Regions from separate parts of the Homo sapiens genome. Here all the other regions are reported to be linked to region 1. The links are microRNA targets in miRTarBase. Many come from high-throughput screens and were not tested one by one. Region 1 holds a microRNA gene; each other region holds the end of a gene's coding sequence.
Evidence for each region. The annotated mature microRNA hsa-miR-4783-3p reads CCCCGGUGUUGGGGCGCGUCUGC and lies in region 1 at 2,051-2,073, shown strand. An mRNA with a match to its seed (bases 2 to 7 or 8) in the 3' UTR can be bound and repressed. Matches are read on the target gene's strand: a 7mer-m8 pairs with bases 2 to 8, a 7mer-A1 pairs with bases 2 to 7 and ends in A, and an 8mer does both.

Region 1 (5,776 bases):
CCAGGGCTGTTGGGGGTGATCCCTGGGATTAGTAAGGTCTCATAATGGGATGCTGCTGAGCTCCTCACAGAGGAAAGGAATTACAGGGAGAAGGAGGTGAGCATTCTTGGAGAGCTCCTACAATAGGCATGGCATGTTTGTGAGGCCTCCCTGCCAAGAAGAGAGCGCATACTCCATGGAGAACTGAGGGCTGAAAGGTCGGCCCGACTCTGCTCAAAATGGGCCTTGAATGCCCAGTCCAGATATCTAGACTTAAAAGAGCAATGGGACGTCGTCAGCAGGGGAGCTGCATCATAACAAAAGAATGGAAAGGGCACAACAGCAACAATTCCAGAAGCTGACAGCAGATGGATGGACACAGTAACTGACTTGGCAGACTGGAAAGCAAAAATCTCAGCCCGTGATGGGGGCGCCCAGAAGCTGAAGGACTGGACCACGGAACCATAGGAGGCTGTGGGGCTTCCAGGAAGGCAGTGCAGGTGGGAGGGCATGTTGAGAGTTTGTAAGAGAAACTGCGAAAGCCCTCCTCACTGACTTGACTCCCCTCTCCCTGCCTGCAGAAGGTGAACCAGAGGCTCTGACTAGGGACTTCAGGCCCCGCTTCAGGAAGGAGTGGTGCTCTTAGCTGACCACAGGGAGTCATGCAAATGTCCACAGCCTGCACAGGCACCAGCTCCCCTGCCCCACCCTGCTCTGAGGGGCCGAACACCATGGGTGAGCGTCTTCCATCCTCCAAGAGCTTGGAGGAGTCCTCTTAGAAAGCAGCCTAAAAGGAAAGCCCTCACGATCTGGGGTTCTGCCAATGACAGGGCCTTCCCAAGGCCTTGCAGGAAACCCACAGGCCAACAGGCCCACCAGGCATTTCTTTGCAGCTTCCTGGAAATATCTAATTATTTCAAAATAAAAAGTTAAATTTTTAGATCTTTTTTTACTTTTTTTAAAAATAGAGACAGGGTCTCACTGTGTTGCCCAGGCTAGTCTCAAACTCCCAAGCTCAAGCAATCCTCCCACCTCAGCCTCTCAAAGTGCTGGAATTATTGGTCTGAGCTACTGAGCCTGGCCAAAAATTTTTTTCTGCAGAAGAATTGAATTATAAAGTTGTAGAAAGTTCCCTGAAAGAGGCTGGGCGCGGTGGCTCACGCCTGTAATCCCAGCACTTTAGGAGGCCAAGGCAGGTGGATCACCTGAGGTCAGGAGTTCAAGACCAGCTTGACCAACACGGAGAAACCCCTTCTCTACTAAAAACACAAAATTAGCTGGGCGTGGTGGCGCATGCCTGTAATCCCAGCTACTCGGGAGGCTGCGGCAGGAGAATCGCTTGAATCCAGGAGGCGGAGGTTGTGGTGAGCTGAGATCACGTCATTGCACTCCAGCCTGGGACAACAAGAGTGAAACTCCATCTCAAAAAAAAAGAAAAAAAAGAAAGTTCCCTGAAAGAAAACACAAAGTCAAAGAGATGGGAAATAGAAGAGACAATAAAACTAGAGGAAAGAGGTCTGAATAATGGGAGGTCCAGAAAGAGAAAATAGAGGAAGTAAAGGGGAGATTGTAGAAGAAATAAGTGATAAATGTCCCTAGAGGCAGAAGATAGGAATTTCCACATTAAAAGGGTCCACCTTTTAATGAAAATGAATGAAAAAAGGACCCATGCCAAGGAACAGCATGCTGAAATGTAAAAGTTGTAAAACTCTGATTTTTAAAGTTTCATACATATATAAATTTGATTAAAATGCATAAAAAGGAAAATATAGAAGAAGGCAGAATCGGGATTCTGTTCTCTCCTCAAGGAAGCAAGGGGGTAAAGAGGGAAATGCGATGCACGCCGGACAACGTCAGAGAAAAACGCAGCCAGGCTACATGGAGGAGGACGCTGCACGCCTCGCCCCAGATACGCTCAGACTGGGGAGCGGAGCCACCACTGGGCTTGCGCTCCAGGAGGTGGCCCCAGGTGCGCAGGGGGCGCCCGGAGGAAGGCGGGGACGCCAGGAAGAAAGGAAGCAGGGAAAGCGGAGGGCGCGCCCAGCTCCCGGGCTGATTGCGCTAACAGTGGCCCCGGTGTTGGGGCGCGTCTGCCGCTGCCCCAAGGCTCAACTCTGTTCCTCGCTCCCTCCCTAGAAACCCTCCTGAGCCCCCCGCGCCGCGCCCCGTCAGGGGGCCTGCCCACCCTGCACCCAGCGTGATTCCTGGGCGATGTATTGGGGGCTTCTCACCTGCGGGGTGACACTGCAGGAGGTCGTCCCCCAGCTTGTAGCCAGGCGCACAGCTACAGCGCCGCCAGCCCACCTCCTCTAGGCAGTAATGCGTGCAGCCGCCGTTGTCCAGCGAGCAATTGAGGAAGCTCACCTCTGCGGGCAGGGGAGGGCGCGGGCAGCTGGTGCTGGTGCCGCGCCCCCAACCCGGCCCCAGCCCCGCCCCGCCGCCCGCCAGCATCCACCTCTCCCCCTCACCGCGCTGGCAGAAGCGGCCCTCCCAGCCGCTGCGGCAGTCGCAGCTGAAGCTGCCGATGCCGTCGATGCACGTGCCGTGCCCGCAGCACAGGCTGGCGCACGGGTGCTCCAAGGGCAAGACCAAGCACTGGTCACCGTCTGCGACACAAGGCGGGGTAGGGGGTCAGCGGCCAGAGATCCCGAGGGGCGCGGGCGCCGGTAGTCCAGCCGGGGATCTAGAACGCACTCACCGACGTGCTTGGACCAGAAGGCCAGCTGCGGAGAGAGCGGGCAGCGTCAGGCTCCTGCAGCCGGTGTGCGGAGGGGGCGCGCCCGGGTGGGGCAGGGCAGCGGGTGAGCGGGCAGGGGAGGGGAGGGCTTCCAGACAAACAGGGATCGACGCCCGATGGTCGTTGGCTGCTAGGAGCTGGTGCTCCCTGCCCCTCCCCCGCCCTCCAGCGCCACCCGCCCGCGCCCAGCCTCCATCCCACGTCCCTGGAGCAACACCCTCTCCCCATGCAGCTGCAGTGCTGCTCTCGCGACTGTCTGCTCCCACAGCAGCCTCTGGCATGCAAGGGACCCGAATCCCTCACCAAGTCACTCGGCCTCCTTCCAGTCCCATCACTCCCTCTGCCTGCGGGCTTTGGGGGACCCCTGAGCATCGCGCCTTTCCCTAAGCCAGTGTTTTTCAGAGTTGGGAGGATGGGGGCAGAGGGTCTGCGTTCCTAACCAGGTACCAGGGTTGCTGCTGCGGCGGCTGCTGCTGGTCCAGGACCACCCAGCCCACGTTGAGACCCACGGCCTGTGCCTGATGCCTGCTCCATCAGAGAGGCCAGCCAAGGCCTGCTGGGGCTGAGAGACCATGGGTGAGGTGGGAGCACGGTGGGGACTTGATGTGATCAGATATGTGCCTGCAGAAAGTCACTGTGGCGTCTGCCAGGGAGGCCACTGGGGAAAGAGGTGGTGGGGATGGAGGTCCAGATGGGGGTCCAGTCAAGGAGGTGGAGGCTGAGGGCAAGAGAGGGTGCAGGCCAGAGGGTCTCCTGCCCTGAAAGCCTCCACTGGAAAGCATCCCTGGATGCCTTGGAAGGGGGCCCAGGCCGTGCACAATTTTCAGGTCCTAGTGGCTGAAGCGATCCCCAGGGACAGAGCGGGTCTGAGCCTTGTCTCAGGAAGCCAGCCCCGTTACCAAGCTCACCCTACTACCTAGGGCCACGTCCACAGGACTCTGGGGGCTCCAAAGGACTCTGACCCTTAGACAAATAGGACACAGACCCTGTCTTCCGACCCCCTGAACAATCAGATTTTCTCCCTTTGATGTGAGGCACAGAGTGAGCGATTTTATGTGGACAGAAGTGAGTTTCGGTCACACACACACCCTGATCAGCAGAGGCATGGGTGGAAGCAGGGTGGTCTTTAGGTCCCCTCTTTGTGAGGTGGGACGGGGAGGCAGTGGTGCTCAGCAGTGGCTGGAGGGTGGACTGAACCACCTACACTGTGGCTGGTGGGAGTCCCCACCTAGGGTCACCCCACACTCTTTCCTGGAGCTTCTTCCTGAATTCTGTTTCTTGCAGTCACATGTGCCTGGCCGACATCATAGGGCCAGCATCCTAATCGCTCCACTCAGCCACCCCCACAACTCCTAAGAGGGCCTCAGCATTGAGTCCCCACCTGCTCCTCGAGGCCCCTGCTGGTTACCAGCTCGCCCCTGAGCCTCATCCTCTGGACCCATGGTGGCCTTACTGTGTCATCCACATTTTGGAAAATTTCCTTGGCCTCCTCGAAGTCACAGATCTCCTCTATGCACTCCCGCTCCAGGCTGCTGTGACGGAGCTCCTCCAGGAAGGAGTTGGCACGTTTGCGGATCCGCAGCACCTGGTGGGCACGCTCGCTGCTGGAGAACACTGAGTCTGGTTTTGGAGGGAGGGGGAGCTCACCTTGGTGGAGGGGCCTAAGAGGGGCTGGGGCCATGAGGGGGTCTGAGGAAGCAGAGCTGGGAGAGCCTGGGAAGGTCTTGTCTCCGCCCCCTCAAGACTCATTCTAATTCTAGGTCATGGCTTGGCGCAGGGGTCCTCTGCTCTTTTCCTCCCCAGGAAGCAGATGGCAGTTGGAGGACGAAGCCTTGCTCTGAGATGGACAGGCCTCCCTGTGAACCCCACCCCGATCTCTGTGTGACCTTGAGCCAGTGTCTTTACCTTTCTAAGGTTCAATTTACTCATCCAAAAACATGGGGATGAGACCGTCATGTAAAACATCCAATACAGTCCCTGGCCCAGAGATAAGTACTCAAGCCCTGGCTGCTGCTGTAAAGGCTGCCAAGTTAAATCCTCTCACTCTTCTGCCAGTACACCACGTGCAGCCCCATCTTGACACATCCCCCCAGTCTTCCTCTCCTCCCCCAACCAAGTATTCCCCATGCTTCTCCCCTTGGGCAGGGACACCTGGAGGATAGACAGACCTATCACCCAGGAAGGGTCCCCAGGTGTCTCCTGGGCTCTGTGAAGTGTCTGTCTTGGGTGCAGGGCACAGTTAGGAGGGAGAGATCAAGTTGGGGGTGTGAGCAAGAAGGGATGGGGGAAAAGGCATCCTAGAGGAGGGTATGCCTGAGCTGAGGGCACCTTGGGAAAGGGTGGAGGTGCAGGTCCCAAGCAGATAAACAGCTCTATAAAGGCACAAATGAAACCAACAGCCTGGTGTGGCTTTAGGGGCCCATGTGTCCTGCGGACCTCCCCAAGAATCATGGCCTCCTCCCGTTGGCTGTGGAGACCAGGAAAGGGGTTGGGGCAGGGCAGCCATGAGGCCAGTGTGCATTTGAGTAGGGGAGGCTGTGCTGGATAGTGTGGACGGTAGCCTGGGCCTGGGGTCTTCACAGTTGAGGGAGTGAGTGGGTGGAGAGGGAAGGCCCAGGGGACTCTGTGACCATCCCCGTGTGGAGGAGGGAGCTTTAGGAGGTCATCGCGGGGCTCCCTGCCATCACGCATGCCTGCCCTGGCAGCCCCTGTGTGGCACTCTGGCAGCTGGCCTACCTGGGACTTGTCAGTTGATTCCTGCCATTCCCATCTGCCCCTCACCTCACCCAGGGCTCAGAGAGATGGTGGAAGCTGTGAAGGCCTGGGCAGATGCCCACCAGGGCCTTGTAGAGGCCACAAGGGTCCCGGGGTAGGGGTGGGGTGGCCTTACCAAGAGGAGCTGGTGTGCCGGAAATTCCCCAGGTGGCCACGAACAGCAGGAGGCTTGTGAGCTGCCACATTCTGGAGGCACTGGCACCTGTCTGAGGAGGACTTCTGAGCTCCGGGCAGTGCCTACCCCCGCTGCTGCTCTGCCTGCACCCCCAGGTGGAAGCGGAATGA
Region 2 (11,113 bases), not on the chromosome of region 1:
TTCTTTCCCAACCTGTCCCTCTACGCCCCCCACTCCTTATTTAACCTTCCTGGAAGGCCTTCGGAGCTGGGCAAGCCGTCAGGGCGCCCTAAGGCCGCTGATCACGTCTGTGGCTTATTTGAATAATCTGTCATGGGGACCCTTGTGGCCCGGGTCGCCCGCAGCCTCATCTTGGCAGGATTTACGCCGCCACTGGCCGAAGGCAAGAAGTGGAAGGAATCGGCCGTCTCCCCCAGCGTCCCAGCTCCGGCTGCCCTGGCTGCCGCCGCTCACGGACAATCTAGTTGTACAAAAGGCTCTCTGGGCTGCACTGCTTTCGAAGAACGGCCCAAAGTATCTCGGTCCTGGGCCTGGGCAGCCAAGGAGAGGGGCGGCCAGTCTTGGCTCGTCCCGAAGTGCCCGCCCCGCCCCCTCTCGCTGCAGCAGCCGCCTCCTCTCCCGTAGCCCTGCGGGCCGCTCTTCACTGCTCTCCAGACTTGGGGCCCTATCTGAGGCGTCCCAAACACCAACTTCTGGCTCCTGGCCCCAACTCGAGAGGCTTCCAGCGAGGACGAAGGCAGGCTCGAGAGAAACCTGGCGGGCCAGCAGATCCGGGAGGCCGGCGTGGAGGCGGCGGCGGATTTGAAGGGAGGAGACACTTACTGGGATCGATGGGGGGCTTGTCTCCGCCGCTCTCATTCTCAGCATTGTTTTCAGAGAAGGCGCCTTCGCTGGGTTGTTTTTCTCTATCAACTGGAGGAGAACCACAAGCATAGTCAGTCAGGGACAAAGTGTGAGTGTCAAGCGTGGGACAGTCACCCCTTCTGGCCGACAGCGGTTCAGGTTTAATGCCATAAGGCCGGCTGGAGGGCAAGCCCGCGAAGGAGAGCGCACCGGGCGTGGGCTCCAGCCAGGAGCGCATGTACCTGCCGTCCGGCGCCGCCGCCGCCACGGGCGCCTGGGGGTGCACGTAGGGGTGGTGGTGATGGTGGTGGTACACCGCAGCGGGTACAGCGTTGGCGCCCGCCGCGTGCACTGGGTTCCACGAGGCGCCAAACACCGTCGCCTTGGACTGGAAGCTGCACGGGCTGAAGTCGGGGTGCTCGGCCAGCGTCGCCGCCTGCCGGGGAGGCTGGCCCAGGGTCCCCGGCGCATAGCGGCCAACGCTCAGCTCATCCGCGGCGTCGGCGCCCAGCAGGAACGAGTCCACGTAGTAGTTGCCCAGGGCCCCAGTGGTGGCCATCACCGTGCCCAGCGCCTGGCCCGCCCGGCCCGACCCACGGAAATTATGAAACTGCAGATTTCATGTAACAACTTGGTGGCACCGGGGGGGAAGTACAGTCACCTAATAAGTTGCCGGCGCCCGCGCCCCCATTGGCCGTGCGCGTCACGTGCCCGTCCAGCAGAACAATAACGCGTAAATCACTCCGCACGCTATTAATGGTCCGATGTTTTGCAGTCATAATTTTTATAGCAAAAGCCATATGTTTTTATGTAAAGGGATCGTGCCGCTCTACGATGGGGTTTGTTTTAATTGTGGCCAACGACGATTAAAAGATCAAATCTAGCCTTGTCTCTGTACTCTCCCGTCTCCCCCCCCATACACACACTTCTTAAGCGGACTATTTTATATCACAATTAATCACGCCATCAAGAAGGCGCGGGTCCCGCGTGCGAGTGCGGCCAGCGGAGCCCCTCACATAAAATTAGACAATAATTGAAGCCATAAAAAAGCAGCCAAATCGCATTGTCGCTCTACTGTATTTAAATCTATATTTATGATATTTCATAAGGAGTTATTGTTTCAGAAGCCACACAGGCTGGCGGGAAGTCGGAAACGACCAACAGATTCGTTTGCCTCGCCGTGGCTCCCAGCTGTAAAAATTTACGAGGACTTGGAAAGGTTAGACTGTTGTGTTTGGTTGGCGAGCTCCCTGTAAATAATCCCTGCGGTCCCCGGGAGAGGCGAGTTTACCCGCGGCCGCCCTCGAAAAGTCAAATTCAACGCAGGATCCGTCCCAAACGGAGCCGCCGCCGGCCCTACCAGGGCACTCCAGGCAGGGACCGGCCGCTCAGGGAGTACCGCGGGTGTAGGTCCCCACAGCTACCCGCCTGGAGCGAGGGGCGCCCGGGCAACCCTTAAATTCGCCTTTGCTACGAGGACCCCACGGAGGAGCTGGCCAGGAGGGAGCGGCCAGCCGCCACCAGGGCGAAGGTTTTGAGGGCCTGGTTGGTTGTGCGGCGCGCTCGGTCCCCGGCCCTCGACCCCACGCACACGCGCGCCCAGCCCGCCTTTCTCATCAGCTGGCAATCAGGATTCCCAGGCGCAGGCGGCTGGCGACCCAGCCCTGTGCTCCAGCCTCAGAGGCTCTAACCATGAGCGCTGCAAGCCTGGTTGCGCTCCGTGAATCCCAGCTGGGGAAAAAACTACAAGTGGCATGAATGGAAGGCAAGTTCGGTTTGGGAAAAGGCAGCCTCGCCTAAGAGACCCCGCAGCTCCGGAACCTGGGAGGCCCGCACCGATGTGGCCTGTCCCGGGGCCGCGTGAGCCTTTCAGGGCTCCTTCCTCCCTTTCCAGCTGCTACTCCGGGCCTCGCCTTGGTTACCTACGGGGCCCGGAGACTCGGCGGAGAGGTACAAGGCCCAAAGAGAGGCAGCCACAGCTCAAGGCCAGGGCTGGAAATTAGAACGGGGAGGGGTAAAAGGGCATCGACTCCAGTCCCATTCCTGGGCCTGGCCACGTTGGGGAAGTTTATTTCTCACCCGTTGGGGGTAAATTAAAAGGTCGCCGCCACTCCGTTAATTGGAAGGAAACTCCCCCTGCCCCCAATTCCTAACAGAAAGCAGCGACTCCTAGAACAGGGGTAATCAAATTCACGTGTGGATACTGTGCCTGCAACAGTGTGTTTTTCATTAGCCCACTTCCCTGGCGGCGAGGCTGGCGGCCTCGGGCGCTTCCATCTCTCTCTCTCTCTTTTGCCTTCATCCTCACCAGCAGTTCCAGTAATCCCCCCCTCAAACACCCTGACACACTTCCGGCTGGGACTCCCAAATACCAGCGAGGCTGCCAAGCCGCGCGGATACCGACTGGGTGCCCCTTCCTGCACCCGCGCCTGGAAGAGGGAAGTGGCCGACACAATGAACTCCGAAATGGCCCCGTCCTGTCCGCCTCATCTCCCTCCCCCTAATATTTTCCTTGCCCCATAAATTCCTCTAGGTCATGCCCACCCCCACCACAGTCCACCGTGTCCTAAATACCCCGCAGTCCGCCAGGCCTCTGAGATTTTCATTTAAAAAATTAACCCTGGAGGAAACCCTGGCTCCCAATTTTAAGTGTCTGCAAATGGGCTGGGCATGTCTGGATGCCTTTTCCACGTTTTATGCCTGAGAAGACACTGATTATTTCAGTATTTTTTAAGTAAAAAAGCTGTTCCTTTAAACAGCCTTAGCCCCAAAATAAGAGAGTTACTGAACAATTAGCAGGCGTTGAGTGTTAAGCAGATGTTACTGGTGCCTAGAAAGCGGAGAAAAATCAGAAAACCAAATATTGTCTTCCTTCAGCCCAAAGGTTTGGAGCCAGAATAGTCTGACTTTTTTGTCTGCTTTTATTTTCGAAGTGAAAGAGATTGCGTATGCATAAAGAAATAATAAATGAGTATAATTTAAAGCGGCCCCTTCTCGACTGAGATTTCTGAAACTGTGATCTCTGAAATAAATCCAATGCCCTGGTCCAGAAAATGGCAGGGAGGAGTTGAAGGGAATGGGGTGTGTGGTCCTTTCAGACAGCAGGTCGGTGGCTGTGCAACGAAAGAGTTCCTGGGCCTCCAGTCCAGGCAGGGAAAGGAAACAGCTTTGTGGGCACGAATCTGTAACTGTGTGTGTTGGGAGTAGGGAGAGATAGTTTGTTTTCTGTTTTCTGTAGGGAAAATGGTCAGACTGGCTCCCATCTGTAGACTACAATTTGGAACGATGACTCAAGTTTATATCAATGGCTCTGGAATTTGGGATTCTTTTTGCCCATTTAAAACATACTGGCTCTTGGAAGGGTCCCCTTCTCCAGCACCCAGCTGCACAAAGGTGCTGTATGGAACATATTTTGTACCTAATGGAAGCCACTAGTAAGCAAGCAGTCAAGCTTTGCCCTAGCCAGTCTCCCTCAATGCGGTCAAACCCCAAGCTGTGACCGGCAGGCCGGGAAGAGCCAGCTAAGAGCTTCCCAGCGAATGGCCAGGCTCCAGCGAGGCTGGTTGGGCCTCAGCTCCAGTCCCCAGTGAGGCTGGCGAAGGCCTCCCTGCCCTCGATATGGGCACACAAAGCTGCAGCGAATGTCCCCTAATCAGATCTCCTAGTCAGCCGTTAGCGACAGGCGAAGAAACGCAAGGCTGCCGCCATCCGGTCGTGATCATAACCGAGGCCTTGTCTGCAGAGTAACACACCAGGCCCAAACCCACCGCCCTCGGCAGCCGCCCCACGCGGGCCCTTCCTCGGCAGACTTCCCAACCTCTACTTGAGCCGCAGAGGAAAGTGAGACCCCCTAGGCTCTCCTGAAGCCAGCTCTGGGCCCCTCCCCAAGGATGCTTTGGGAAGGAGATAAGGAGGTGAGATAGAATCTGGCAGAGACGGAAGATGAAAAAAAGACCAACGGAAGAAAAGAAAGCAGGAAGGAGCAAAGGAAAGAAGAAAAAAAGAAAGAAGAGATAAAAGAGGAAGGGAAGACAGGGAAAAGAAGGAAGAAAAGAGAGGCGACTCCTAGCAGCGGCCGAGCTTACAGAGAGAAGGGTAAGTGACAAGGCCAGGATCCCAGCCTGCCCTATCCTTCCTAGTCCAGCCTGAGTCTCCACTGGAAGGAGGTTCTTTCCTGAGCTCACACCCGGGACTGGTGTGTGTGTGTGTGTGTGTGTGTGTGTGTGTGTGTGTGTTCCAGCCTTACAAGAGAATGGCAGGAGGTCCCTGGGCAGGCGCAGGCCTCCAGTGGGAGGCTCAGGATGGAAGCGGGCGCCCCTGACCTTGAATGGCCCAAAGCCCAGAATTCCTACCACGCCCCCGGCGTCCGCGAAGGAGCAGCCAACCTAACCCTACCTGCTGTGACCAGGTGGAGGTGTGTGGTGGAAGGGGAAAGCCGGCCGGCTGGCAAAGCGCTGCGGAGAAAGACACGAGGCTCCTGAGCAGGGAAAGCCGAGGTTGCCACCGCAGGCCTGGCACGACCAGGGCCGTGATGCCCCGCCCGGCCCGACCCCCGCGCGCAGAGGTACCTGGAGACGATTTCAACTGAAGTAATGAAGGCAGTGTCGTGCTGTCGAGAGAAAGGTGGATCCCAACAACAGGAAACTACCTAAATCACCGACCAGTTCTGGTGCTGCCCGCGAAGGGCTGCCTCGCCCGCCGCCGCCGCCGCCTCCGCCGCTGCCGCCGCCGCCAAGGAGAGAACCCTGCCATCGCGCCTGGCCCGGCCCAGCCCAGCCCCTAGGCAACCTGCGCCCGCCAGTGCAACAGAGTGCCCCAGGCGGCCGCAAATGCGTCAAGGAAGGGGAAGCCACAGGCCCCAGTAAGGTATTCCTGGGAGGGAGAGGGAGGAAAAGAGAGGGAGGAAAGGCAGGGAGAGAGGAATAAAGGCGGGGAGCAGGCGAGACGAGAGCAGCTCCGAGAAGCAGTGTGCGCGCCGCTTTCCCAAATCTTGCAGCCCAGCGAGCCGGCGCCAAGAGGCGGTAGCCGTGGAAGGCTCGAAAGCGCCAGGGACGGTACAGATCCCGGCTCCCTGTCTGGCCCCGGCCTCCCGCCTCTCGCTCTCCCCCTCTCCCTCCTAGCTGCCCGCCCGCCGGGGCGCGCGCTCCTGCGCCCCCTCCCCTTAGCCCCCGCCCCCCCCACTCTGGCAAGCAGGAAACGCGTGGCCCTAAGGAGTGCCGCCAGGTGGGGGAGGCCGTACTGGGGGAGGGGGAGGCCCCCATGCAGTCCAGCCCGGGTCCACCTAACCGCTGCCTCCAGCGGCTAGAGATGCGCTGTGGGCCAGGCCTGCTCCCCGATTCAGATTGAGGGTCATCTGTGACCCAGACACCCGCAAAATAACCGGCCTCTGCAAGCCTCCCTGGGGCTCCCGAAAGAAATCCTGTTTGGCTTCCTCTGTCTATGTAGCTCCCCTCTCAACTGAAATCACTGGTCCAAGACAGCCACAATCCAGATATACTAGCAAGCCATAAAACTGAACAAAAGCCGACAAACCTTACGGCACCAGGGCTATAGGGCCCAGACAAATTACGACCGTCTAGGTAATATTTAAATAGATGCCTAAAGTAATTGCAGGGGCTCGGGTTAGTCCTCCTGTTGTAAAAGTGGTGAACGGGATAAAGTGGAAGGTGAAGATAAGAAGTCAAAAAAGAGGTAAAATTAAAAAGCTTCATTCCACAGCTTTTATTCTATAAGAACATAAACATCGTCTTTTTCCACGCACAGCAGCAATACAATATTAATTTATTCTGATTTAAGATTAGAAGTAAATAGAGCTAGAACTAACATTTATAATAACGATAGAATGCATTTGCTTAAAACAAGATTGGCAATTCTTCATAATAATAGACATTTATACAGATTTGTATTTATAGTTTTTTTCTTTTTCTGCATCTACAGGTTTGACCCTTTTATGCATGTAACTTCACAGTATAAAGGAAATCCAAACAATGTCTCCCTTCTCTAGTTTATTCCGCTTACCCCAGTCCTCCTAGGCTTCTGTGAATTTCAGAAAGCAAAAACAAACAAAAAAAAAACTTTTTGTTCAAGGCGATTTAAAAAAACAACTTCACAAGATAGGGAGAATTGTGGTGTGCTTGTCACATGTTACCAGTGGTAACAATTTTAATGACAAAAAAATCCACTAATTCCAAATGCATAAACAAAACTACATTATTTATCTACAGCCAGAAGGATATGGAAATTTAGAGGTAAATGAAACATTTTAGTCAGGCAATGTAAGACCTTACAGAAACTGGAAGAGAAGTCCCCTTCTCTTGGTAATTCTTTTTTTTTCTTTTTAAAGCTGGGATATCTTACAGAGGAAGGAAAAATTAACCTTTTTTACTTTCTTTCTCACTTTTTAAATCAGCCAAAGTCAAGCCCGTTTGCCAACCTGCATGTCCATGCCTGTAAGCCCTTCTCTTGGCCAAGGAAGAAAGGAAGAAAGAAAAAAGAAACCCAGGGGCCTGTATCCCCTGATTAAACACAGCACAGCACTCCAGGCAGACATGCCCGGTGGCGGCTCCTTTGCACCATTGACCTCAGGCCAGACACCTCAGCGCCAACAATGGGACCTCGGCCTTCCGGCTAGGTTTGCCCCAGGCTGGGCAGGAAACCAGCTCGGCCGAAGACAGGGGCCATTTCGAGCAGTGGGACCCCAAGACAGCAAACCCAGCCCAGTCAGGACTTGACACTTAGGACAATATCTATCTCTATAGAATTTTAGCATGATATGGCTTTTTCCCCCAGAAAACAACAAATAAACCAGCACCAAGCAAACACAAAGAAACAAAAAGTCAGAACAAACCAGCCCTGCACAGATGTAACGGCCCAGGAGATGGCGAGTGTGGGAGGGAGGAACAGGGCTCCAGCACAGGTGCGAGTTCCTGGGCAGAGCCTGAAGACAGAGGGAGGGGACCAGCGCTCGGGAAGTGAAAAAACCGCGTCGCCTGGAGATTCATCAGGAAAAATTAAAGTTGGCTGTGAGCTCCCGGATCCGGTTTTCTCGATTCATTTTCTTCAGTTTCATCCTGCGGTTCTGAAACCAGATTTTCACTTGTCTGTCCGTGAGGTGGACGCTGCGGCTAATCTCTAGGCGCCGCTCTCGAGTAAGGTACATATTGAACAGAAACTCCTTCTCCAGCTCCAGTGTCTGGTGCTTCGTGTAGGGGCAGCGCTTCTTCCGACCACTCTTTGCCGTGAGCCAGTTGGCTGCGTTTTCACCTTTGGAATTGCCTGGCATGTAAGAGAATAAAGAGGGGATGATTAAGTCGAGGCCACACGGGCTGCCCGCGGGGGTGAATTGCCTCCGTTTCTCCCATAAGAGAGATGTCCCAAGTCACAGAGAAGAGAGTCGTGCCCCCGTTTTTGGCTTGCTGAGAGCAAGCAGTTCCTCCAAAAGTCATGACAAAAATTGAGTGGGCCTTCAATCTACATGACCCTTCCAATTTACATTTCCCCCACTTTTCCAAACACCTGTTTTAGCGCTAAGCCGTAGATGCTTGCAGAAGGAAAGGCCTGGGAGGGCAGGCTGTACATCTTGAACTTAACGCTTTTCTTTGCCTCTTGCCATATGGCAGACAAGCATTTCCTGTAGCCCCCAGGCTAGGAGCGCGGGGTGCTTACTTGGAAGATGGGCCAGGCAGCTTGGCTGTCTCACCCCAGGGCCCTGATTGCCCAAGACTCGATAAGGGGAGAAAGAAGGGCATCATTGGTCCAATGGGGAAGGCAGGAAAAACCGATTCGGGGGTCAAGGGCCCTCCCTCAAGTTTCTCCAGGAGCCAGGGATAGATAGCTGGGCGATTCCGAGGTCCAGGGGAAGGGAAATGGCCCTTCTCTGGCTCTCAGCTCAGGGCCCCCCGCTTCCAGGCCGGATTTGCCTTTTCTTCTTCCCGCAACGAAGATTCCCGCCCCTCAGCAACTTTGAAAAAAGCATGGGGGATCGTAAACTCGAACTTCGCCGGTTAATGGGCTTATTTATTGGCGCTGGCGGCTGCTTATTTTGGATGCCTTACAAACATCCGCGCTATCTGCGGGCGAGCTACTTTCCCTCCCTCCCCCTCCCCCCGCGTGGGCCGCGCCGCGCAGGCTGGGCAGGGACCAGGGCTCTGGGTCCTCCCGGCCACAGGAAAGAGCGCACAGGAGGGGGCCTGCTCGCTGGTGTCCTCGTCCCTAGTCAGGGGGAGCTGAGGCCAGCGCCGAGGACGTCTTGCTGTGGGGCGCTAAGCCGGACATGAATTTTACTGCGTCCCCACGCCCAAATATTAAAAAGCAAGTTCACAAGGTCAGCCTGCCTGCAGCTTGGGCCAAGGCCGGCCGGCTGCTGCGCGGGCTCCTAGTTTTCTGATCCTTCTCCTCCTTGTGTCTGCCTGTCTGCCCGCCTGACTGCAGCCCTCTGCAGCCCTGCTTACCCAGGGAATCCTTCTCCGGCGAGGCTTTGCTGCTCTCGGAAGGGGCCGGGGAGAGCTCCTCCGCGGCCGAGGACGACGCGTGCGCCTCCTCGTCGCCCTGCGAGCCCCCGCCGCTGCCGCAAGCCAGCGTGGGGGGCGGCGGCGAATCGAGGGCTCGCTCCTTCCGGGCCGCATCGGCCGAGCCGGAGGCTAGCGCGGGCGGGAGATCGAAACCGCGCCCCGGGGGCTGCGCGGGGAACGGGCCAGCCCCGAGTTGCTGCGCGCCGCCGCCGCCGCTGCCATAGCCCTTGGCGGTGCCGTAGGCCTGAGAAAGGCGGAAGTAGCCAGGCACTGGCACCCCGCTGGAGGTGCCCAGGGCGCAGCCGTCGGGCGGCGGGCCCCGCGGGAAGGGAGCCAGTTCGGCGGCGGTGGCCGAGACTTTGGGGCATTTGTCCGCCGAGTCGTAGAGGCAGTAGGAGCTCTCTTCTTTGATGTTCTGCGCGAAAGAGCACGAGGTGGCCTGCGGCGCTGGCTGGGGTGGTTGCGGCGGGGGCGGCGGCTGCTGCTGGGGCGGCGGCGGCGGCCCGTCAGGCGGCTCCATCCGGCAAGACCGGGGCGCGTCTAGCCACAGGTCTATGGGCGAGGGCCCGTAGCCGTGCGCCCCGGGACCTAGACCCCCGCCACCGCCACCGCTGCCCGGCGACGCTGCCTCATTGCGCTTGCCGCCCAGCGTGGGGAAGAGCCCGCAGCTCTGCAGCCCGTAGGGCAGGTCGGCGGCGGGCGGCAGGTAGACCCCGCCGTGGGCGTAGTAACCGCCACCGCCGCCGCCCCCCGCGCCACCACCACCGCCGCCTGCCTCGCCTCTGCCCGAGCTGATGAGCGAGTCGACCAAAAAAGAGTTCGCGGCGGGGCTCTCCGAGCATGACATTGTTGTGGGATAATTTGGCGAAGGGAGCAGATAGCCCTTTCTGGCTGACATTTCTTGTGCAAAACATGCTGAATACGATTAGCAATCCCCCCGCACCGCGGCGGGCGCCCGCAGCCAATCCCGAGCCAGAGTTTCCGCGCGACCACTCCCAGTTTGGTTTCGTAGGCGCGGGGCCGCTCTCCGAGGGCGCCCTCAGAGCCCGCGATTGATATAAATATGTAATCTGTATTGATGGGCCAGGAGACGCACCCCGACACCTTGGCCCGAAGGCCGGGAGCTGTGGGGGCTGCCCCAACGTGGCTGGTGGGGGGCCTGGCCATTGGGCTCGCCCCGCCCCTACCCGGACGTGAGCCCCATACCGGGGTCCCTTAGAAGGGCCCTTGGGCCCCGCGCAGTTAACAAGTGGGGTGTTTATGGTGCGCGCCCAGTCTGCCTTGGGTGCTCACCATCCCTGTCGCAGAAGCTGCCACTAGTCCCCGGTGTACTCTAACCACTGAAGCGGCCGTGTCGGGGACTCACGCGCTTCCCATTCAGCTCTGGATCTGGAACTGGCCCCTTGTCTGAATTCTGCCTCCTCAAAAGTGGCGAACCTGGCCCTATGGCCGTCAGGATCCTCAGAGTGTCAGGAGCCCAGAGTGAACTAGAAGCTGACTTGCCTCTACTTCCAGTATCCACAGATTTTTCCCCAAAATGCAGTGGTTGTTCCCTAGCCCCTAACCCCCAACACTTTTCTCCCCTAGTCCGTTGATCCAGTTAGGATCTTCTCCTCTGGTGTTGTGCTCACCCGGCTTGCCTTCTCTACAACTCCTGTCAGTGGACTTTGGTGGGCTGGCGGGACTGGGGGTGGGAAGCGGCTGCCAGCCTTGATGGAAAGACGGCCCCACTCCCACTCCCAAGGCCAGAGCCAGATCCAAGCATCCCCTCATCACCTAGGGAAGACTCTAAGCCCACAGTCATTTCGGGGAAGTAAAATGCTGGCCTTGGGGTCCTTGGCTGGCCCAAAGTGAGAGACTTGGAGGGGTGTGCCCGGTGTACACCTCCGCTGCTTTATGTTCCTGCTCTCCTGTTAGCTTTGGCACTCATATGCTCCTGG
Region 3 (5,000 bases), not on the chromosome of region 1:
CTGTCTCCTTCAGTGCTGATTCTTTCCCCTCCATTCAGTTGTCAGCGCAGTTGCTCTATGGAATGTGTTGGGCAGAAGCCCAGAGTGCATGCTCTGTCCAATAGAAATGGCCACACATCACCCCGTGCCCTAGCCCACTTTGCCCAGATGAAACATGTGCCCAATGATGCCATTTTCCAATTTTCCAAGATTTTCATTGGAAATCTCCCACTTTTAAAATGTTTACCCTATTAGAATAATAAGCATGTGCAGAAGAAAGCACCATCTTGCTACTCCTGCTGTGGCAGTGCTGCTCCCCAGGAATTCACCCTCAGCTGTTTCCTTCTAGGTTAGAGTTTTGTTAGGGCTTCAACTGTCCTCCATACGCATGGATGGATGTGTTCCCAACTCACTCTTGAGCCCCAGAACAATACATTCAATCACCTACTGGGGTCTCCATCTGAATGTACCAGAAGCATGCTCAACTCAAAATGCCCTAGACTGAAGTTGCCATTTTCCTCCTAACACTAACTCTCCTACAATCCCTGCCTTGGTAAATGAGCCCACTGTTTACTTGATGCCCAAGCCAGAAATCTCAACTCTTCACTATTCAGATACAAAATCCTGTGGATTCTAACCAACCTCTCAGCATTTCTATCTACCCAAGGAACTGCCTCTCCGTGCATGAAGCCATTATCTTCAGGCTGGAGCAGGACAATGACCTCTAGTCCTTCCTCTTCACTCCACATTTCCACCAGAATGTGCTAACACAGTTCTGATTATGCCATACTCCCTTTTCATGCAACCATTCCAAAAACATATTCTGTGTGTGACACTGATTCCATGGGATATAAATGGTGTTGTGTGACAAAGAGTTCTATGATGACACAGGTTTACAACCAAAAATTTGAACACAGCTTTAGTATTTTTTGTAGCTTCTTGGAGCCCTGCATGTCTAATGTATATTTTGATTCTCCAAGAGGGCAATACAGCAGTAAGGAGCTTCTCAAACTTATTTGGCCATGTAATTCTTTTGTCATGGGACATTTTAAGGTATCAGTGTTTAATGGTGACAAATATTATTCAATGGCTTTCCATTATCTACAGCACACAATTCAAATTCCTTACTACAGGCCTAAGAACAAGGACTGTGAAGCCAGAGTATCTGGGTTCAAATTATGACTGTGCCATTTGCTTAGCTGTGTGACACTGGACAAATTCTTCTCCATGCCTTTATTTCCGTATCTATGAGGATGACAATACCGTGTGTCATAGGGTCAGTGAAAGGATTAGAGTTACTATTATACTGATAGTCCATTCAAAGTGTGTAAGACACTGCCGGGCTCATCGTATTAGCTATATTCTTATTCATGGTCTTTTATCAGCCGTCTTCTCCATCTTTACCTCCTCTTATAAAGGTAGGTCTACTTGTCTTTTGTGTCCTGGGACTGCATCTCCATCGCTGGTGTTGCTCTTCTCTCTGCCTGACGTTCCTCGCCAGTCCCTCGCCTTTCCTCCTACTGATCTGCACCTGTGAGCTCAAACTTTTCCATGTTTCCCAGGCAGACTTGTGCACTTGCACAGTCAGCAAGTATTTATCAGGTGACCAGGATGTACCTCACATTTCTGCTGGGAGGCAGGCGTGTCATGACATTGAATACCCTGACTCCCTGTACATGCCAGGAAGTGTGACTCTGCGACTTCTCACATCCATCCTTCCCTTCTACACCCAGTCTGCTATAGCCGGTTTTAGCCTCGTCCCCTCATCCCATTCCCCACTAGACCTCAAACTGCTCCAGAGCCTTTCATCTTTGTATCCCCAGAACCTAGAATAGTTTTTGGCACATAATATATGCCCAATAAATATGTGTCAATTGCATACATGAATTTGTCTTGGCCACCGTGCCAAGCTCTCCACTGCCTGCTACGATGTGGGACCAGGTCCTCTCTGGGCCTCAGTTTCTTTAACGGTAGACAAGCAGAGTAAAGGCTGCCTCACTGCGCCCTGAGAGGCTGCATCGCGCACTCTGTGACCTCGCTGTTCCGCCTGGCGCGCGGTGGGAGCCCAGGGCGGTATCCAAATTCTCCGAATTCTTGAAAGTAAGCGGAGAAGACTGCGCAGGATCTGAGCGGGTCACACCCAGGGGGCTGCGTGGGCACCCTGCGGTCCCCTGCCCGCCCGCCGGCCCCGCACTCACGCTGCGCGTTGCAGTTGCCTCAGCAAGTACGCGACCCGGGCTCGGGCGGCAGCGGCCATGGCGCTTGGAGTCCTCTTCCCTCCTCGGGTCGCTACACCGCCCCCTCCGCCGGCCAATCACGGAGGCTGCCCGCCTCCCGCCCCTCGGCCGCGCCTGCCCACCCGCTTCGCGGGGTCACCTGTCTAAGCCTCAAGCCAGTCGGGCTCAGGGCCATTTTCCCACGGAGTAAGAACCAGAACGCCAGCTGCCCCAGCGGCGCTCGCACCATCCACCCTTGAAATTGCCGTAGAAGGTAACTGCTCCGTAGGCCTCGGGTTCTGCCTTAAATCTCCTTACTTATCAACTCTATTTTTCACATGTTGAGGACTTGGGGGAAGGAAGAGGAACAGGGATATTCTTTTTCCACTGTTAATCCTTTAAAATGTTACTTTCCCTTCTAAGAGTATTTTAAGTGATCAAGACCCTGCCTTTAAACTGTTTTAACAGTAAACAAGAACCTAGCAGAGCCCGAGGGTTTTTGTTAAATACTGTGTGAATGGCTTTGCTTTTGATGAAAGCAAAATCAATAGTTAAAACTCTTACATCAATAGTTAAAACTTGCCATGATTAGACTATGCTCCGGGAGGGCTTGGCTGTGCCATATCTGCCATGTCCCAGTGGAAAAGCTGATTAACGATAAAGCTCAACTTTATCAGAAAGTATCCAAAGACAGTAACAACTAAACATTTGCATTTTTAGTAATCTGTTATTATGAAATCTGAATCCTTTATGGGAGATATTAAGTTTTACAGAAATGAATTTACTGCGATCAAACTGGAAAAGATTGATGGACAGGAAGACCAAGGACAGCTATATAAACATTTCACCTCCTAATCAAACCAGCTCAGGCCAACTTGACAAATGAATCAAAAAATAATGTTCTATGAGAACACATGTACACAGGGAGGGGAACAACACACATTGGGGCCTGGGGGCAGGGGATAGAAGGGGGCAGAGGGACTTAATACTTAGGTGATGGGTTGATAGGTGCAGCAAGCCACCACAGCACACGTTTACCTATGTAACAAACATGCACATCCTGCACATCTACTCCGGAACTTAAAAAAAGATAATAATGTCCTAATTAAGGATCTTATGGGTCTGTTTCTTTCTTCCCCCAAACAAAACTATACCTGACGTCAAGCTTAAAAACAAACACACACACACAAACAACTGGGGATATAAACGTAGAGAAAGATTTAAGTGTTTTCTGGATTAATGAGGATTATTACCATTAGTCAATGAAGCCCAAATTGATCATTTACAGGAAATCCATGTGTTCAGTGTTGAAAGGCATAAAATCTTTTTAAAAAACAGACATCAGTTTTACTACTTTGAATATTATATTTGATACCAAAAGAAGTATAAGTTTAGAAGTGGTATCACTGAAACCATTATAATTGAACTGCTTTTTTTTTTTGAGATGGCCCCTTCCTCTGTTGCCCAGGCTGGAGTGGAGTGCAGTGGCGTGATCTGGGCTCACTGCAACCTCCGCCTCCCAGGTTCAAACGATACTCCTGCCTCAGCCTCCCAAGTAGCTGGGACTACAGGTACCAGCCACCGTGTCTGGCTAATTTTTTTATTTTTAGTAGAGATGGGGTTTCACTGTGTTGGCCAGGCTGGTCGCGAACTCCTGACCTCAGGTGATCCGCCCGCCCCGGCCTCCCAAAGTACTGGGACTCTACAGGAGTGAGCCACTGCGCACGGCCTGCTTTGTGTTTTTCAGAAAGTAAACAAAAATAATCTGTACCAGGTATCCAGGTAACCGGCTTCAAGTACAATTTCTACCCAGTAGTCAGAAAGTTAAAAGTCACACTAGATAAGACATCTTTATTACTTAATCTTTAAAACAGTCACTTGCCTATTCAATTCTGAAACTGTTTGTTTTCTTTCCCTCCCCCGCACTCCCGCTCTGATACACAAACTTGTTGTAAAAATAATGCAGAAACATATACGTCAATCTAAGTCTCTGAAATATGGCCAACTCTACCTCGCCGTATATCCAACATTAAAAAGAAAAAAAAAGGCTGTTTAAGAATAGAACTCATTCCCGGTTTCCACCAAATTATTTCCCTAATTCTTAAATCCTCAAATAAGTTCTTAATCTCCAAAGTCTCGGTTGTGGGAAAAACATTAATTTGTGCAGTCCAACACTTACATACTTTCTTGACGGAAGGGCAATCCTGTCCCTTTAAACTCAATGAAGGCAGCGGCCAGGTCCTTCTGAGTCCCCGTATAATTGCCTAGAACTTAACATTTAGTATTCATAGTCCTTGGTTTACAGACGGGTCCGACAGTTAGAAACTATTACTTCCTCCTCTTTCCTCCTGGGCGCTGTCCTCCTTTTCTCTTGCCACCCAAGCCAGGCGGCCCAGAATTCATCTTGCCTCCCAAGCCCCCTTTCCTCTTCCCTCCCTGGCTGGGCGGGCCCCCTTTCCTCTTGCCCCCAGGCCCCTGCCGGCCTCCCTTTCTCTTGCCCTTCTGGCTCATTTTCCTCCTCTTGGCGGCCTCCTCCTGGTCCTCCTCCCTCATCTGCTTATTGGTGGCCCTAGTCACATCCAGCTGAGGCTTCTTGCTGTTCATGACACGAAGCAGCTCCAACTGGTTCTTTTTCTCGGCTGCAAAGTCCCCGAAAAGGGGTTGAAACTTCCTTTTCTTGCCGGAGCCCCGGGGCACCTTCTCCTTGGGGAGGCGCTCCTGAAAGCGCCCCACAGAGGCGGTGGAGACCTTGGCCACTTGCATGGCGCGGCCCAGCTCCTCCTTACTCTGGTGTCCGGTAGGGTG

Region 2: miRTarBase lists HOXA10 as a target of hsa-miR-4783-3p. Seed matches in the 3' UTR shown: 7mer-m8 at 7,215-7,221.
Region 3: the mRNA of RRS1 is a reported target of hsa-miR-4783-3p. Seed matches in the 3' UTR shown: 7mer-A1 at 4,265-4,271.

The regions. Positions count from the first base shown.
Region 1 is chr2:127,419,843-127,425,618 of GRCh38, reverse strand. It overlaps MIR4783 (microRNA 4783), which reads left to right and starts at 2,001; the gene lies at 2,001-2,082. It overlaps PROC (protein C, inactivator of coagulation factors Va and VIIIa), which reads right to left. Exons shown (of 9, transcript NM_000312.4): 2 at 5,607-5,697; 3 at 4,170-4,336; 4 at 2,678-2,702; 5 at 2,448-2,585; 6 at 2,211-2,345. The coding sequence starts at 5,676. It overlaps LOC105373608 (a long non-coding RNA gene), which reads left to right. Exons shown (of 2, transcript XR_007087228.1): 2 at 1-919. RefSeq lists enhancers at 1,538-2,334, 2,335-3,133.
Region 2 is chr7:27,164,236-27,175,348 of GRCh38, forward strand. HOXA10 (homeobox A10) reads right to left here and starts at 10,085. Exons shown (of 2, transcript NM_018951.4): 1 at 9,114-10,085; 2 at 6,370-7,938. The coding sequence starts at 10,071. The coding sequence ends at 7,664. It overlaps HOXA10-HOXA9 (HOXA10-HOXA9 readthrough), which reads right to left. Exons shown (of 3, transcript NM_001433944.1): 2 at 643-732. HOXA10-AS (HOXA10 antisense RNA) reads left to right here and starts at 4,664. Exons shown (of 3, transcript NR_046609.1): 1 at 4,664-4,758; 2 at 5,072-5,529; 3 at 7,073-7,680. It overlaps MIR196B (microRNA 196b), which reads right to left and starts at 5,328; the gene lies at 5,245-5,328. It also overlaps HOXA9. RefSeq lists enhancers at 1-715, 2,441-3,159, 4,349-4,939, 4,940-5,530, 7,285-7,784 and 3 more.
Region 3 is chr8:66,429,753-66,434,752 of GRCh38, reverse strand. RRS1 (regulator of ribosome synthesis 1) reads right to left here. Exons shown (of 1, transcript NM_015169.4): 1 at 4,020-5,000. The coding sequence ends at 4,524. It overlaps ADHFE1 (alcohol dehydrogenase iron containing 1), which reads right to left and starts at 2,249. Exons shown (of 14, transcript NM_144650.3): 1 at 2,178-2,249. The coding sequence starts at 2,236. It overlaps LOC102724687 (a long non-coding RNA gene), which reads left to right and starts at 2,387. Exons shown (of 5, transcript XR_929013.3): 1 at 2,387-2,469. RefSeq lists a silencer at 1,996-2,415 and an enhancer at 4,172-4,221.